2 separate regions of the Homo sapiens genome follow, and region 2 is linked to region 1. The links come from fine-mapping of genetic effects on plasma protein levels. A gene starts in region 1. The other region holds a variant in brackets. All regions are shown on one strand. Distances are from middle to middle.

Region 1 (8,330 bases):
TTCCCAGTGTCCGCCAGCTCATTGCCTTGCCCCAGCCAGTGTCCCCTGAGGCATTTAGAGTGAGAGGAAACTGAGGCCCAGAGATTTGGCAAGGCACGACAAAGGACCACCCACATAGAGGGTTCCTCCAGGCCTAACAGGGCAGGAGTGTCAGGACTAGGGGTTCTCCACTCGAGGGCTCCCGGCCACAGCCCCCGGCAAGGACCCAGTGTCTGAGCTAACCCCCTCCCCACCACCTCCTCCTTCCTGGCCCCCTCCTCCCTTCAAACCGCAGGGCCCAGCCGGCCTCTGGAACGCGTGCCCGGGACCTCGGTGATATTTTGAGTTTAAGAAAACTTTGCAGTCGGCAGGAGCTCTTAAAGGTTATAAATAGCAGCAGCGGGAGCCCATGCAGGGAGAGGCGGAAACACGTGTCAAACACGCCTGGGAGGGGGTATTCCGAGGCACAGACCCCCCCCCACACACACAATAGGGACGCACTAGGCTTCTGGGGATTTTACAACCACTGGAGCGGGAAATCACACTCTACCCAGAAGGCGTCTGGGAAACAGGACCCGCTTTGGACCCCCAACCAGTGTCCCCAGTGGCTGGCCAGGTTGCCCGGGCATGTGGGGGCACTGATGAAAGGGGATCTGGTGGGGAGGCCTTTCTCCTACCCCACTCCCCGCCACCATGCCACCAGGGATCTCCCTCAGAGCTGCCCTTGGGAACAGCAGGGCTGGGGGTGGGTTTGGAGAGAGTCCACTCTAACCCGTCTGTGGCAGGGAGAACTGAAGACCTGAGTGGGGACAGAATTGTTACCAGGTCATGGGAAAGCTGGACAAGATTTGGACCCCCAAGCCACAGTTCTTCCCATTGAACACTGTTGCTGCCTCCCTTCCATTTCCAGGGACCACGGGACGGTGCTCTAACTCACCCAAAGAAAGCACAGAGATGGGCACAAAGGTAACAACACGCAACACTGAGGGATGCAGACCTGAGGGCCCCATCCCTCAGCATCCAATCCCAGTGCTTCCCCTTCCGGTGAAGACCTCCTGCTGAACAGATGAGGAACAGACCAGAGACTTGCCCTACTCCAGTGGGATGCAAGCCCATGCCCACACTGCCAGGGAGTGGACTGTCAACAACCCAAGGCCAGGTATGCAGCCTCAGCAAGGACATCAGCTCCGCTTTGGACACAGCAGTCTCAGCCTTGCCTTGAGGGTCATGCAATTTGAGGACATGCCCTCAGGAGCCTAGTCTGAGGAGACACCCTTCTGGGGCCTGATCTAAGAGAAATCAGTTTTGATGGCCTCGTGGCCATGGAAGGAACCCTTCAACCTCCACCACCTCCCTGGATTTCCCAACTGCTCCACAATGTGCATGGGGCAAGAACTGTTACGACGCTGCAAATACCTGGAAACTCAGGCGAGTCTCAGGCTCCCACCCACCATCCCACTTATGCCTCACTCATGCCCCACCTGCTGCCCACAGCTCCCAGCAGGTCTGGGGGCGGCATCCAGCCTTGGCATCCAGGCGTTCTGAACCTCAGGGAGCCCCAAAGGGTTTATGGGTCTCCCAATGAATGGGAGCCTGTTGAGCTCGGAGGGGGCCGGGCCCGAGTAAACATGGCTGGGTCTGAGCTGCCATTCTCCCCCTACCTCTTCCCCAGAACCCAGGACCAAAATACAACTTCCTGTCCCCGGAGCTGAGGGCCAGACTTGCCCCCCAGAGCCCTGGGCTGGGGCCCACAGGAGGAACGCAAACTGGCAGGCCCAAGGCTCGAGGAGAGAAAGGCCTTCAGGTTTTCAGACTCCCAGGTCTGCTTGCATCCAAGACCCAAGTGCCTGGGCACTTTACAGATCCCCTTTGAGCCTGAAACTGCCCAACTGTTAACAACAGATCAGGAAACTGAGGCCATGAGCAGGAAGGCGTCTGGCTCAGGGATCCACAGGTCAAAGCAGAAAAGGCCCCAGCCTCCTGCTTCCCTGGCCAGTGAGGATGGGGCCTGTGGGCAGGGTAGGGCAGTGCATGTGGACTCAGGGGAGGTAGAGGCTCTGGCAGTCAAGAGCCAGGGCAACAGGGAGGCTTGACAGAGCACAGGGGAACTCTCCCTCCTTTGGGCACAACTGCCCACTGACCTCCGCTGGCCTGGTCACAGAATAGCCTACGTGTCCCAGGATACCCCTTGGAGCAGTGCACTTCAGAGTAGCTGGGGCAGGAGTCCCATAAGTGCTGTTTGTCATAGTTTCACTATGTCCCCTGGCCAGTCCATTCTGCTCTTTGGTCCCGTTTCCTCCACCTGGAGGCCAGGTATCACCGAGCCTGCCTCCCTGACTAACTTGTGAAACAAAAAGTACTTTGGAAACTCTAATGAGTGGTACCCTCCCCAGGAGCCTGGAAGACCCAGGGAGGGGGGCCCTAGGAATGTGCCCAATGGCTGGGGGTGGTTGGGGCCAGCTGCCTCACATGCAGGGCACTGGGGGCTACAGCTGGAATGTGCTGAGTGGCAGCTGCCACGTGAATCATTATACCTCATCAGGCTGAGCCTAGGACTTCCAGACACAAACCAGCTCAGACTGGGCTCAGGCAGAAGGGCAGCCTCCAGCCGGGTCACAGGGCCTGGGGGTGAGGTTTCTGGGATCTTGCAGGGTCTCTGCCTCCCTGTCTGCCCACATCTTCATCCTGAGCAACCAGCCCTGGTTCTGAACACAGCTCGTTCTACAGACCCACAGAGAGAAGTCATCCTGTCCACAGCCCCCTGCCTTTGAGACCTGTGACAGCTTAAGCAGACCCTGGGCCTGGAAGGGCCTGGGAGGCAGATAGGGAGGGCTTCCTGGCTGACTCCTCACCAGGAGCCCACATTCCAGTGGGCAAGGAGTCAGATATGAGGTGGCTGTGGGGCTGTAGGGGTCAGGACACGGGCTGGAGTGGAATGACGGCCCCCTCCATCTCTTCCGTCTAGGAGCCACTGGGTACCCAGTGCTGGCAGATCAGGCTTTCTTGGGCCTCAGTTTTCCTGCCTGTGACACAGGCAAGAACCACCTCCAGCCCCCCTCTGATTTCTCTGGGTGCCTTAAACTTGAGTGAAGTCACTAGTAGGGGCTGTGTTCATACCTCGTGGCAGCCTGATATTCCTGAGATGTGGAAAGGACCAGAGGGTTAGACAGGGACACAGAGACTAAGAGAGAGGCATGGCAGGGCAAGGAGAGGACTATTGAGGCACACACACGTGTCTGGCAGCCTGAGTGGGCCCAGTTACCTGGCAGGCAGACCCATGGGTGCTGAGGGGAGGGCCCAGCCCTGGGCATCTGAACACCGGCACACTTGGATCTGCCTCTGTTGCCTCCTACTCCTGACTAGGAGCCTGGGACAAAGTCCTGGGCCAGTGTAGGGCTTGGTAAAAAATAATTAATTTTCTTTTCAAGTGGAAGCTCTGACTCAGGTCTTTTCTTGTCCCCAGCAGCACTATCCTTGCTTAGGCCTGAGCCACAGAAGCTGCTCAGGGACTATCCATGGCCTCCCCGTGGCCAACTTGAGTCTGCTCTGCAGCTTTAGGCCCGACTTGGAAGGCCCATGGGCTGCAGGTGAGTGGGGGCCAGGGGAGCCTAGGGGCCTGAGCACAGCTGGGAAGCCCAAGTCTGTGGTTTCCCTGGGGGTGAGTGTCTAAATACCTGGGCCGTGCTATGGGGCAGACAAGACATGCCCGCATGGAGACACATCTGTGGACCTGGTGTTATGACAGCAGGGGGCTTGTAACCATGAGGCCAGCAGGGACAGAAAGCCCATACCTCTAGCTCCTTGGGAGCCTTAGGAGTGCTCCCTGGTTGGGACAGAGCCTGCTGGCCCCAGGTGCCCCCATCGCCCCTCCCTTCACCTTCCTGAGAGGCAAGAAAGCCAGGCAGCCATGCTTCTGCTGCAAGGGAAGGGGGCTACCCAGCCAGCTGCCATGGGAGCCTCCAGCGACTCAGCTGGGTGTCAGGGGGTGTTTATGAGCAGCCGAAATGGCTGTAAAAGTGGCACCTCGCTTCACTTATGGCCTAGCCATCCCCTCCCCTACTGGGCTCTTGCCTCAAAAAGTTTCCAGAGGGGCCTAGAAGCCGAGAGAGGTCTGGGGTTGAGGGCTGGGTGGAGGCACAACCTGGGGTCAGAGTTCAGCCAGGGGCTAGAAATCAGACTGGGATAAGAACTCAGCCTGAGGCTGGGGCTCATGATGGAGATAGAGCTCAGTCTGGGATCAGGGCTAAGCTTGGATGCAGCCTGACTTTGGGGCTAGTGTTGGGATGAAGCACTGGGGAAATATAAGGACTCAGAAATAGATGTGAGCCATTAGTCCCAGAGAACCCCTGGTCTGGCCAAGGGGTTTTCTGAGGGAGGAAGGCCAGGCTGCATTGCTCAGACAGCTGAGCCTCTTGCCTTGCTTGTTGGTGTCTGATGCCCACCCTGGCCCCAGGGTCTGTGTACCTTGGCCAGAGCCCTACTCACGGTGGGATGGCTGCAGCAGAGGCCTGTCAGCCTGGGGCTGCCACACCAGCAGGGGTGGGGCCAGAGTCTGGCCCCTACTGCAGTTCTGAGATCCAGTGACCACCCTGGCTCCTCCTCCTAGGCCCCAGCCTGGGGATTAGAGACAGGGACTCACTCCTACTCCCCACCCCCAGCCAGGCCTTTTCAAACCCCATTGAAACTAACACTGACCTGACACTAACCAGAAACTGACTCTGAGCCCCTGGGGCGTGCTTGTCAAAAAGGGCAAGCTGACTCTGCCAGGTGCTTGGGTGCTACCAGTTAATGTGTGACACCCCCACCCTCATGGTAGCACTTTAACCAGAGGCCCGAGGGTGAGAGAGATGATCTGTGGCCCCACCCACAGCTGTGGAATGTCCAGCAGGGGACTCTGGGGTGAGGCACATGAGTTATGGCAGGAGGAATGCCCTTAAGGGACCCAGCACCCATCAGATTCCTCTCTGCAGCCCTCTCCACAGCCCACCCTCATCCTCCCAAGTACAAGTAGTATGTTTCCAAATCTCAAGTTTTCCCTGGTGTCAGATCTGAAAAGAACTCCTCCCCTCAGCCTCTAGTTTTATCTCTCAGTCCTTCCAATCCCTCCATTAATGTTCTTTTCTCATCACCAAGGGGGAAAGCAGGGTGGAAGATCAGTGGTCACAGAACCATAAAACTTAGAGACACTTAGAAACAGAGGCATAGGCCAGGTGCGGTGGTTCATGCCTGTAATCCCAGCACTTTGGGAGGCCGAGGCAGGAGGACTGCTTGAGCCCAAGAGTTGGAGACCAGTCTAGGCAACAAAGTGAGACCTCGTCTCTACAAAAAAAAAATTTTTTAATTACCCAGGTGTGGTAGCTCATGCCTGTGGTGCCAGCTACATGAGAGGCTGAGGTGAGAGGATTGCTTGAGCCCAGGAGGTCAAGGCTGCTGTGAGCCATGACCGTGCCACTGCACTCCAGCCTGGGTGACACAGCAAGACCCTGTCTGGGGAAAAAAAAAATGCTGCGTGTGGTGGCTCACGCTTGTAATCTCAACACTTTGGGAGGCCGAGACAGGATCACTTGAGGCCAGGAGTTTGAAACCAGCCTGGCCAACATGGAGAAACCCCATCTCCACTACAAATGCAAAAATTAGCCAGGCGTGGTGGTGCACAACTATAATGCCAGCTACTCAGGAGGCTGAGGCCAGAGAATTGCTTGAACCCGGGAGGTGGAGGTTGCAGTCAGCCGAGATCGCACCACTGCACTCCAGCCTGGCCAACAGCCCTGTCTCAAAAAAGAAAAGAAACAGAGGCATAATAAAGCTGAGACCATTAAAATATAACACTGAAGAACCACAAGTGTTCTTTAGGTGCCCATTCTGGCACCTGGGCCTCCGTCCCAAGGAGGCTACATACCATAGGAGGCAGCCCTGAAATCACAACCTCCCTCCCCAGTAACGGAGGATGTGGGCACACAAGGAGGGAGGGGAGTGTCCTTTACACCAGGCAGAAGAGTATGATCCTGGCAGAGGAAGCAGCAAGGACAAAGGCAGGAGAGTGGATGTGTGAAGAAGACCAGGAGTCTAGCAGACAGTTCCTGTTAGGGAGAGTCATTTTTGGAGGAAACTGTCTCAAATAGCACAGCCCTTGAACACCAGAAAAAGAAATGAGGGCAGTGGGCACAGAGAAGGGAGGCAGCCATAGAAATGCATGGGGAGGGCCAAGGCTGGTGGTTCATACCTGTAATCCCAGCACTTTGGGAGGCTGAGGCAGGTGGATCACTTGAGGTCAGGGGTTCGTGACCAGCCTGGTCAACATGGTGAAACCCCGTCTCTACCAAGAAATGCAAAAATTAGCCAGGTTGGTGGTACACACCTGTAGTCCCAGCTACTTGGGAGAATCACTTGAGCCTGGGAAGCGGAGGTTGCAGTGAGCAGAGATCATGCCACTGGACTCCAGCCTGGGTGACAAAGTGAGACTTTGTCTTGAAGAAGAAGAAGAAGGAGAAGGAGAAGAAAGAAGAAGAAAGTAGCAGCAGAAGAAATACATGGGGAATGCACCTGGGAGTGCAGTCTGGAAGCTGGATGGGCTTGAGCCAGCAGAAGGGTGGCTGCAGCTGGATCCTAGGCCTTAGGACTTGGGCTTGACAGATTTGCACTGAGGGTTGGAGGGCAGGTTTGCAGGCTCCGAGGAGCTCAATATCCACAGGCTGAGTCTTGAGAGCCCCTGGAGCCCATGGGCCAGGATGCCCACCCTCGTGGAAACTAAACAGTAAAGTTAACATTGCCCTTGAATCAGCTGGCCAACCTCTCCATTTTGCAGATGAGGAAACTGAGGTCCAGACAGCCGAAGAGTGGTAGTGTCCAGGACACACAACTGGTAAGCGGGCAAGCACAGGCTGTTGCTTAGCCCAGACTCATTTCCCAGGGCCTCATGCATTCGCTTCCTCCGCGATCCTTAAAGCCCTGCGCTCCAGGCATCCCCAGCCCCTCCCTCTGCCTCAGTTTCCCCACTTGGTACCGGGAGGTGGTAGGTTTGGGGTCGAAGGGCCCCTCCTCTTAGAGCTCCAGCGTGCCCTCCCCAGCCAAACACAGAAATCCCGCCCCGTTCAGCCCCAACCCCCGCGGACTCCTCCTTGCCTTCCCCTAAGTCGAGGGTCCCAGGCGGCCCGGTCCGAGCCGGCCGATAGCTTTTGGGAGTGGGGGTGGGAACGGGGGAGGGAGGTGAAGCCTGAGAGTGGGTGTCTGGATTGAGCCCCAGGTCTGGCAGCCTCGAGCCTCCGGGGTTGGGGCTGGGCAAGCTGGAGAGGCCCGGCCAGCAGCTGAATGGGTCGAGACTCGGAGACCCGGACCCGAAGAGACGCTGGGCAGGGAGGGAGCGGGATGTGTGGCTGCAGACCTGGGCGGGGGTCGGGGCTGGCCTAGGGCCGAGAGGAACGACAGGCCTGGGATGGGACTGAGGGCAGGGGACGAGGCGAGGGTGGGGCTGGACGTGGGGGAGGGCGGCAGCAGCCAAGCCGGGCTCGGGGCTGGCAGCCGAGCGGCCTCCCCAGGGACCCCGACCCGGCCCGAACGGGAGCCCAGTGGACTGACAGCGTCGCGGCCGGGGGCGCGCGGGGGTACCGGGCAGCCTCCTCAGGGGATTCGCCCATGATGAAAGAGGGCTCGCTTCTCGGCTCAGGGTCTCTATTCGCCAGCGGGGGCCGGATGATCAAGGGAAAAAAAATTTAAAAGCCCGTGCTTTCCAGAAGAGAATGAAGCGGCGGCGGCGTCCCGGGTTCCCTGCTCGGGTCTCGATGTTACAGCTGCCCCCGCCCCGTCTCCCCAGCACTCACATCCCGCCGCCGTAAGACTCCGGGCCTCGGCCTCTAGCGCAATGTCCCGGGGCGGGGGGCGGAAGGCTCCTCTCGGCCTCTCCACACTCCCGCGTCGGCGGCTGCGGAGGGGGTGGGGGCGGGAGAGGCCCGGGAGGGCGCGGGGGAGGGAAGAGGCGCCCGGCCGGGGAGAAGGGGAGCGGCAGACGCCGAGGCGAGGGATGCGCGCGGCGGGCGGTGGCTCCGAGCGGCGGCCGGGCGGGGGGCGCTGGAGGCCAGGCCGGCCAGCGGGGGGTATCCCGAGAGCTCCATGAAGTCCCCCCGGGGCCGCGGACGGGGCGCTGGCTTGGGGAGGCTGTCGGGGGGGCCCCGACATCCATGGCAAGGCGGGGGCCGCGGCGGCGCGCTCGGAGTAAGTCGGGGCTGGGGACCCGCGCCGAGGGGAAGTGGCCGGAGTCGGGGAGGAGCGACTCCGGGCCTGGCCGGAGCAGCCAGGCTGCTCTGTCTCGGTGTCAGTCGGCGGCGCCTCCTCGGAACCCGGGGGAGTCGCCAGCC
Region 2 (8,330 bases), 140 kb before region 1:
CCACAAGGTGATGCTGCTGTCAGGAACCTCCCTGGAGTGGTACTCCCGGTGCTCGGCCCGTGACAGTGCCTCCTAGGCCCAGCTCTCTGCAGTGTACCCTATGTCCAGCCTTGGCCTTGATGGTGCCCCCAGTGTGTAGTTCTGAGCCTGTGACAGTACGATGTGCCTGGCTCGTGACAGTGCCTGGTACCTGGCCCATGAAGCACCCTAGTGCCCAGCCCAGGCTCCTTTGTGAACCCCCTCTCACGCCTCCCTGGAGGTGTGGAAACTGAGGCACTGAGAGGGAGATAACTAGTTCTTGTAGTATGTGATGTGATTGAGGTGGAACTGGAGGTTTCTTTTTTCCCTCAGGGTCTGTATTTTCTTTACTTTTCTTTTTTTTTTTTTTTCCAGACAGGGTCTCATTCTGTCACCACGCTGGAGTGTGATGGTGGTGAGATCATAGCTCACTGCAGCCTCCACCTCCCAGGCTCAAGCAATCCTCCTACCTTAGCCTCCCGAGTAGCTAGGACCACAGGTGTGCACCATCATGCCTGGCTAATTTTTTTTAATTTTTTGAGAGACAAGGTCTCACTGTGCTGCCCTGGTCTCAAGCTCCAGGGATTACAGGCATGAGCCACTATGCCCAGCCCAAGGTCTGTATTTTCAAAGGAAAGAGCTCCTGGGTTGAGGAAATCTAGGTATGTTTAACCTGGCAGGGTGGCTTCCTAAGAGGAAGCCACTTGCAGACTTGGGTCTTCACAAATCAGCAGAATGAATGACATCTGGGGACACCTCGTCACCACTCCCCCGAGGTCTCCCTTCCCAAGGATCCCAGGCTCCTCACACTGTCCATGCAGGAAGCTCCTGCTCCACCCTGCAGCCAGTGCTGCCAAGGACACGGAGTGACGAGGTTGTTCACACACTGCTGGGGAGATAAACTGACATGACCACTATAAATGACTGTTTGGAATCATTTAGCAGAGCAGAAAGTGTGCCTACCCCACAACCCACAGTTCTACTCCTGGCTTCATGCCCTAGAAACTGCACAGATGCAGCAGGACAGGTGCAAGAGACTGTTCACTAGCAGTGCTGCTGGGAAGGGTCCCAGCTGGAAACTACCCAACTGCCATCCAAGGTGCAACAGCTACGCGGAATCTTCAGCGGCAGTGAGAATGGATGAGCTGCTGCTACACCTAGCTGGAAGGTGACGCTCATAACCCTATTCTGAGTGAGACAATTCAGATACAAAAGTCAGATACAGTCTGTGTACTGTATGAAATTAAAAAACAGGCAAAACAAACTAATTTTAGAGCTATATGGTAGAAAATCAAGGAAATTATTATCTGTACAATCAAATTCCCTCCAGGGGGAAAGACATAGAAAGGGAAAGAGGGAGAAAGAAAAGAGAAACTTCAGAGAAGAGAAACGCTATCACTCTTCTGCCTTTGCAGAAAATAATTCTTTGGGGGAAACAACCAATCAATAAAACAAAACAGGATAACTGAATAAAGATCAGGCATATCTGTTATCACAACCAATGTGAATGCATAGAATTCTACTTTTAAAATAAAAAGATCTTCATGTTGGGTAGAAAAAAACCCATCCACATACTACTTATTAAAGACACACCAAAAACAAAGTGGCATAAATAAGGTGAAAGTAAAAAGATGTGGCTGGGCTTGGTGGCTCACACCTGCAATCCCAGAACTTTGGGAGGCTGGGGTGGGTGGATGGCTTGAGCCCAGGAGTTCGACACCAGCCTAGCCAACATAGTGAGACCTCGTCTTTAGAAAAAATTTAAAAAATTAGCCAGGTGTGGTGGCATGCACCTGTGGTCCCAGCTACCCGGGAGGCTGAGATTGTGGTGAGCTGAGATCACGCCACTGCACTCCAGACTGGGCAACAGAATGAGACCCTGTCTCAAAAAATATTAATTTTAAAAATTAGAAATTAATTAAATTTTTAAAAGATAGGCAAAAATATATTTATATGCAAGCAAAAGTGGCAATGGCAATGTGAATCTCTAAAAATGATTCAAGACAAATTATTTAAACAGAAAAAGAAAGCTATTTTGTGTTGAAAAAGGCACAAATTGCAATATGTAACATCATAAAGTTCTGTCCATCAATAAAATAACATCAAACATATGAAACAAAATCAATCAGCAACACATGAGAAGCTGGAAAATCTCTCTTGCAGTGGGAGAGTCTTCTCCAACTCACTCTGTCCTTGAGAGACGGAATAGCTATAAACTACTAATAAAATAATACTAATAATTAGAGCAATACGTTATTTAAAAACCTTACTGGGTGTGCCCAAGGCAAATTCATAACCTTAAAGATATTTAGTATTGAATAACAGAGAATGAAAATAAATGACCTAAATACTCAAATCTAAAAACTATAAAAAGTGGAAAATAAACCAGAGGAAAATCTGAAGGAAAAAAAGTACAAAATATAAAATTGTACCTCAATCAATTAGAAGAACTGCCAAAATTAAGAATGAACTCTGATCTGGATCTTTGAAAAAACAAGTAATGTTACATAGGACAAAAGGCATGTTTTATATTGATAGGGTGTAACCCACTAAGATAATACAGCAGGCATGAACCCTGTATTCCTAACAACACAGCTTTGAAACATAGAAAGCAAGAATTGTGCAAGAAGAAATAGGCAAATTCTTAAGTTTTGCAGTAAACTTCTTAGAAATCAACAAATTATGCAGCCGTAAAATATGTCAGGTGTTGAGATAATTTGAATAACACAATCAACAAGCCTGATCCAATCAGTTATGGCTCAAACTTCGTTCTAAAACACACACTTTTAACTATTTTAGGTTCAGGAGTACATGTGCAGGTTTGTTACTTAGGTAAACTTGTGTCACAGGGGTTTGTTGTACAGATTATTTCATCACCCAGATACTATGCCTTGTATCCAACAATTATTTTTTCTGCTCCTCTCCCTCCTCCTTTGCATCACTAAAACCAAGGAGGCTCCAGGAACAATGCTGCTGTTGTTCCCCTCTATGTGTCCATGTGTTCTCATCATTTAGCTCCCACTTAGAAGTGAGAACATGTGGTATCTGGTTTTCTGTTCCTGCATTAGTTTGCTAAGGATAATGGCCTCCAGCTCCAACCATTTTCCCGCAAAAGACGTATCTCTTTCTTTTTTATGGCTGCATAGTATTCCATGGTGTTTGTGTAACACATTTTCTTTATCCAGTGTCATTGATAGGCCTTTAGGTTGATTCCATGTCTTGGCTATTGTGAATAGTGCTGCAATGAACACTTGTGAAAACACACACTTTCATTTCAGACGCACAACACTCACTAAGACTAACCAAATACTAAGCCACAAATAAAACCTCAAAAAATTCAAAAATGCAGAAATAATTAAATTCATACACAGTCGTGCATCACTTAATGACAGGGATACAGTATGAGAAATGCATTGTTAGGCAATTTCATCACCATGCAAACATAAGACTGTGCTTACACACGCCTAGATGGTACATATATATTTTTATGTATATGTATTTTTTCATCAGGAAAACCAAATGTCCCAGCACCATTAGTGAATGTCAGTCATTCCCTTACTTGTCTGCAATGCCACTATCAACTACCATATATCAGGTTTCTATATATGCTCCATTATAATCTTATGGGACCACTCTTGTATATGTGGTCTGTAATCGACTGAAATGTCATTATGTGGCATATGACTGTAGTGATATAGAGAAAAAGAAGCCCTCATTCCTCCCAAGAACTACCCATCAGGAAATTAAATAACACCCTTCTATATAACTCTTGGACTAAATAAGAAATATACTGTGAAATTATAAACAATACAGAAATGAATGACAATGAGGCCAGTACGTATCAAATCCTGTGAAATATGGCTAAAGTGGGACTCAGAGGAAAATTTATGGAATTAACTGAAAATACTAGAACACAAAGAACTCTAAAATAATGAACTAAGCCCACTACTCAAGAGGTTACAAAAAGAGCAATAAAATAATCACATGGAGGCATCCACTTCTCATTTTGGTATATTTTCTTCTACATTTTTTTCTTAAAAAAGAAGATTATGAGATATATATATATATCTAGATATATATATCTTTGAAATATATATATATATTTGAAGGCAAATTCATAACCTTAAAGATATTTATTATTGAATAACAGAGAATGAAAATAAATGACCTAAATACTCAAATCTAAAAACTATAAAGAGTAGAAAATAAACCAGAGGAAAATCTGAAGGAAAAAAAGTACAAAATATAAAATTGTACCTTAATCAATTAGAAGAACTGCCAAAATTAAGAATGAACTCTGATCTGGATCTTTGAAAAAACAAGTAATGTTACATAGGACAAAAGGCATGTTTTATATTGATAGGGTGTAACCCACTATATATATCTAGATATATGTATCTATATATACAGATATATAGACATATATGTAGATATATATCTCTCTAGAGATATATGTAGATATATATCTCTCTAGAGATATATGTAGATATATATCTCTCTAGAGATATATGTAGATATATATCTCTCTAGAGATATATGTAGATATATATCTCTCTAGAGATATATGTAGATATATATCTCTCGAGAGATATATGTAGATATATATCTCTCTAGAGATATATGTAGATATATATCTCTCTAGAGATATATATAGATATATGTAGATATATATCTCTAGAGATATATATAGATATATATCTGTATAGCTCTAGAGATATATATAGATTTTTTTTTTTTTTTGAGACAGAGTCTCACTCTGTCACCCAGGCTGGAATGCAGTGGCGCAATCTCGGCTCACTGCAAGCTCCGCCTCCCAGGTTCAAGCCATTCTCCTGCCTCAGCCTCCCGAGTAACTGGGACTACAGGTGCCCACCACCACGCCCAGCTAATTTTTTGTATTTTTTAGTAGAGACGGGGTTTCACCATATTAGCCAGGATGGTCTCGATCTCCTGACCTCGTGATCCACCCGCCTCAGCCTCCCAAAGTGCTGGGATTACAGGCATGAGCCACCACGCCTGGCCTATGAGCAATAATTTTTAAGAAAAAAATGTAGAAGAAGATATA[C/G]CAAAATGAGAAGCGGATGCCTCCATGTGGTGGGACTCCAGGGGACGTCTATTTTCTTTAGGCTCGACTATGTTTTCTAATTTTCTACAATAAACATGCACTACTTTTATAATTGGTTTAAAAAAAAAGAAAGCTGCTTTTGGAGTACTATTGTGAGTCACTCCTACTGCAGCCTAAAAGCCTGCATGTTTCAACTGTTCCCTTAACAGCATGCCCACTTTACAGACAAGGAAACTGAGGTCACAGGCCCAGACTTTTTCCTTAAACCCCAGCACTAATGATACAGCAAAAACCAGCAGTCCCCACTCCAGACAGCCTCCTGGCAGACTTAATTCCAGGAAGCTCTGCCATCCCACCCACGGCCAACCCCCAGGACTACCCCAGAAAAGAGAAAAGAGTCAGCTCAAGTTTGCACATGTTTAATCCCTGCTCTCCTGGTCCCAGATTCCAGAATCCTTCTAGGCCACACTTCCCTTCTCCTGCTCACCCAAGGCCTAGTCATCCACCACACTTCTCCTCACCGGGATGCCAAAGCCAGACCCATTCTCCCAGGGGTTACTCTTCCCCACCCTGACTCTTTTTGAAGATGGACACATGACCTTGGTCAAACCATCTGGCCCCATTCAGCAGAGGCAAGGCAGGAGGAGGAAAAGGTAGGGAGGTCAGGAGCCCATCTGGGGCTGCAGCAGCCAGCACAGGAACAGGAGGCAGGCAGAGGCACAGGGACCTGAGAAGGCTCCATTGCTCATTTGCTTCTTGATCCATTTGGTGTATTTGGTGATGCGGGTGTACACACCTGGATTCTGTGCCTTCACGCAGGCCTTTTCCCAGGACAACACCCCAGCCAGAATCCATCTGCCCTCAACTTCACAAGCCAATGGCCCTCCAGAATCCCCCTAGGCAAAAAGAGAGGAGTGATGGAGGCTGTGGGTCCAGCTGGGCCTGCTGGGCCCTGTGGACCCATGCCCACCCTCTGAGCTCTGCTGGGAGGGTTTTCACTCCTCCAGGACCTCACTACTTGGGGTCCTCTTTTGGCTCCTCAGTTGGGACCCACACCCCAGAATCAGGGCAAAAGTCAGCATCACAGGGGAAGGAAGACAGGAGCAGAGCACTACTGGGTGATGGTAACGGAGGGAGGCCGGGCCAACCCCGCCCCAGGGAACTGCCTCCACCCAGGAGTGGTTCCCAGCAGAAGCAGAGCTACCAGAACCTCCCAGAAACTCACATAGCACAAGTTTTCCCCATAATTGGTGGCACAGATCATGTCCCCCAGGACAAGGGGGACAACTGGGGGGAAGAAGGACTTCTTGTAATGCCGGTCACACCTCTTGTTGTCCATGATAAACACCTCAGCCTCCTGCAGCTCTGGGGTCAGCATGGAGTTGGCTGTGGAGCCTAGCAGGGTGAGCAGTGACCTCTCACTCCACCCAACCCTGACCTCTGTCCAGGGTCCTGTCCCCTTCACCCTGGAGACTCAGCCCAGCCACCGCCTGTCATACCTCCAAGCCCTCCCCTCCTTCACCGGCCCCTCCCCCTGCAGTGCAGGCCTTGTCTGAAAAGCCCCCGCCCTCGAAGGCTCTGAGTCCAGATCCCCTTCTTGGGAAACTTCTGCTTCTGAACCAAACCAGCCATAACTCAAGTCTCAGTGCAGCCGCTTCCAATCTGGGGCCCAGCCCCGCGCTGCTTCCCTGCAGACTCTCAGCTCTGCTGGCACGGCCGCTCTCCCCACCTTCGTTAACACTCGCTCCTCCTCCAGGGCCTCAAGGCAGTCCCTCTGCCCAGAGCTCATTCCAGATCCCTCCCAGCTGGATCTCAAGACCACCAGACAAGAACTTTGCCTTGTTCTCCTCAGCCTGTGCCCACACCCACACCCAATCATGACTTCCCTCCAGGCAGGGCATGCATTTCTAATCCCAAGGGCTGGGTGCCGACACTCAAAGTGTGTCAAGTGAAGGAATGAGTGAATGCCCAGCTCTGAGCTTCTATAAGACACAGATGGTCATGCCCAGCCCAGGCACTACCAGGCCTGAATGAGGTGTCCACATAAACAGTGACAATGGTCACCACATGAGGAGTGGTCAACACATTCAGAGAACCAGGTCCAGCAGGAAAGGCCCCAGAAGGAAAGGAGTGTGCTCTCGGTGGTACTGCACCCACCCCCCATCCCATCCTGCTCATCTGAAAAGCGCTGCTTAACCTGGCTCCAGCCAGTCACCCAACACTGCGTCCCAACCTTCAGGTTGAAATTGGGCTCCGGGAGGCAGATGGGCTGCACGTACTCACTGAAGGTGACAGGTGTTTGAAGGTGGACAAGGGCAACGTCACCCATGATGAAGGCCCGGCCCCAGTACTTGGGGTGCATAATGATGTCCCTCACAGGGACCCAGAGGGCCCTGCTGAAGTTCATGGGCTGCAGCTTGGAGGTGCCAAGCACCACTGAGTACTCTTTGGTGCTGTGGGAAACAGAGAGCCCCACCTGGTAGGTATCAGACTCCCAAGCAGGAACACACTCCTACCTCCCCGTGGCCCTACCCCTTTAGCAAGAGTCCTGCCTCCACCCAATCTGCCTAATCCAGCCTGAGGGCACTGAAGATCTCAGAGCTGACTGCCTCCTCATTCATCATTCAAATTGATTCAAGGTGGCCTGGTCTGTGTGTTGTGCGTGCAGGTGTGGAAGTGTTGGTGTACACATATGCTCTCATGCGTGATGGGGTAGGGGGCGTGTTCTGGGTTTTCCTGTTGCTCAGCTTAGGGTGCAGTCTTTGTTGCTAGGGGCTCCCGCCCTAGCTCAGTCCCTGGCCCCCAGGAGACCCCGAGCACAATTCTCACTTATCCCAGATGCCCTTCCCACTCCCTACCTCCCTCCCACACTGTTTCACTCAGGAAATGAGGAAGCTGGGCTGGGCCCATGGTAGCTTGAGGTCTCCAAGCCCTGCACACATGGGCCATACTCACCCTTGGATGCAGTGGGCCGCAGTCACCACCCAGCTGGGGTCAATGAGGGCCCCTCCACACACGTGCTCATTTTCCATCCGGAGGCTCACCTCCCAGGGCCAATGGCGGGTCATTTCCAAATCCTCCGACCACCAGGGCTCACCACAAACTTCAGGAAGAAGTGTGCCAGGGAGACACAGGAACCACATAGAGGAGGATGAGAAAGACTGAGACCTAGATGCCCTACAGGGCCAATTTGCACAAAGCTGTAAACTCGGGGCCTCTTCCCATTTCAGAGATGGGGAGAGTGAGG

Which allele goes with the higher level. Positions count from the first base shown, and alleles are read on the strand shown. Strength reflects both the effect of a copy and how common the allele is.
For the plasma level of the protein whose gene starts at base 3,444 in region 1, allele G in region 2 goes with a lower level than allele C (weak association).

Evidence for each region. PIP is the posterior inclusion probability: the model's chance that the variant is causal. The UK Biobank Pharma Proteomics Project read protein levels with antibody pairs (Olink). The fine-mapping took linkage between variants from a reference panel, not from the people measured, so its PIPs are less certain.
Region 2: its variant is fine-mapped to the plasma level of the PTH1R protein (UK Biobank, PIP above 0.99).

The regions. Positions count from the first base shown.
Region 1 is chr3:46,874,278-46,882,607 of GRCh38, forward strand. It overlaps PTH1R (parathyroid hormone 1 receptor), which reads left to right and starts at 3,444. Exons shown (of 16, transcript NM_000316.3): 1 at 3,444-3,566; 2 at 6,785-6,841. It also overlaps a transcript of MYL3 not described here.
Region 2 is chr3:46,736,605-46,744,934 of GRCh38, forward strand. It overlaps the pseudogene PRSS45P. Among named protein-coding and RNA genes, the nearest start is that of PRSS50, 23 kb to the left of the region's middle. The variant C/G (reference allele first, on the strand shown) is at 5,084.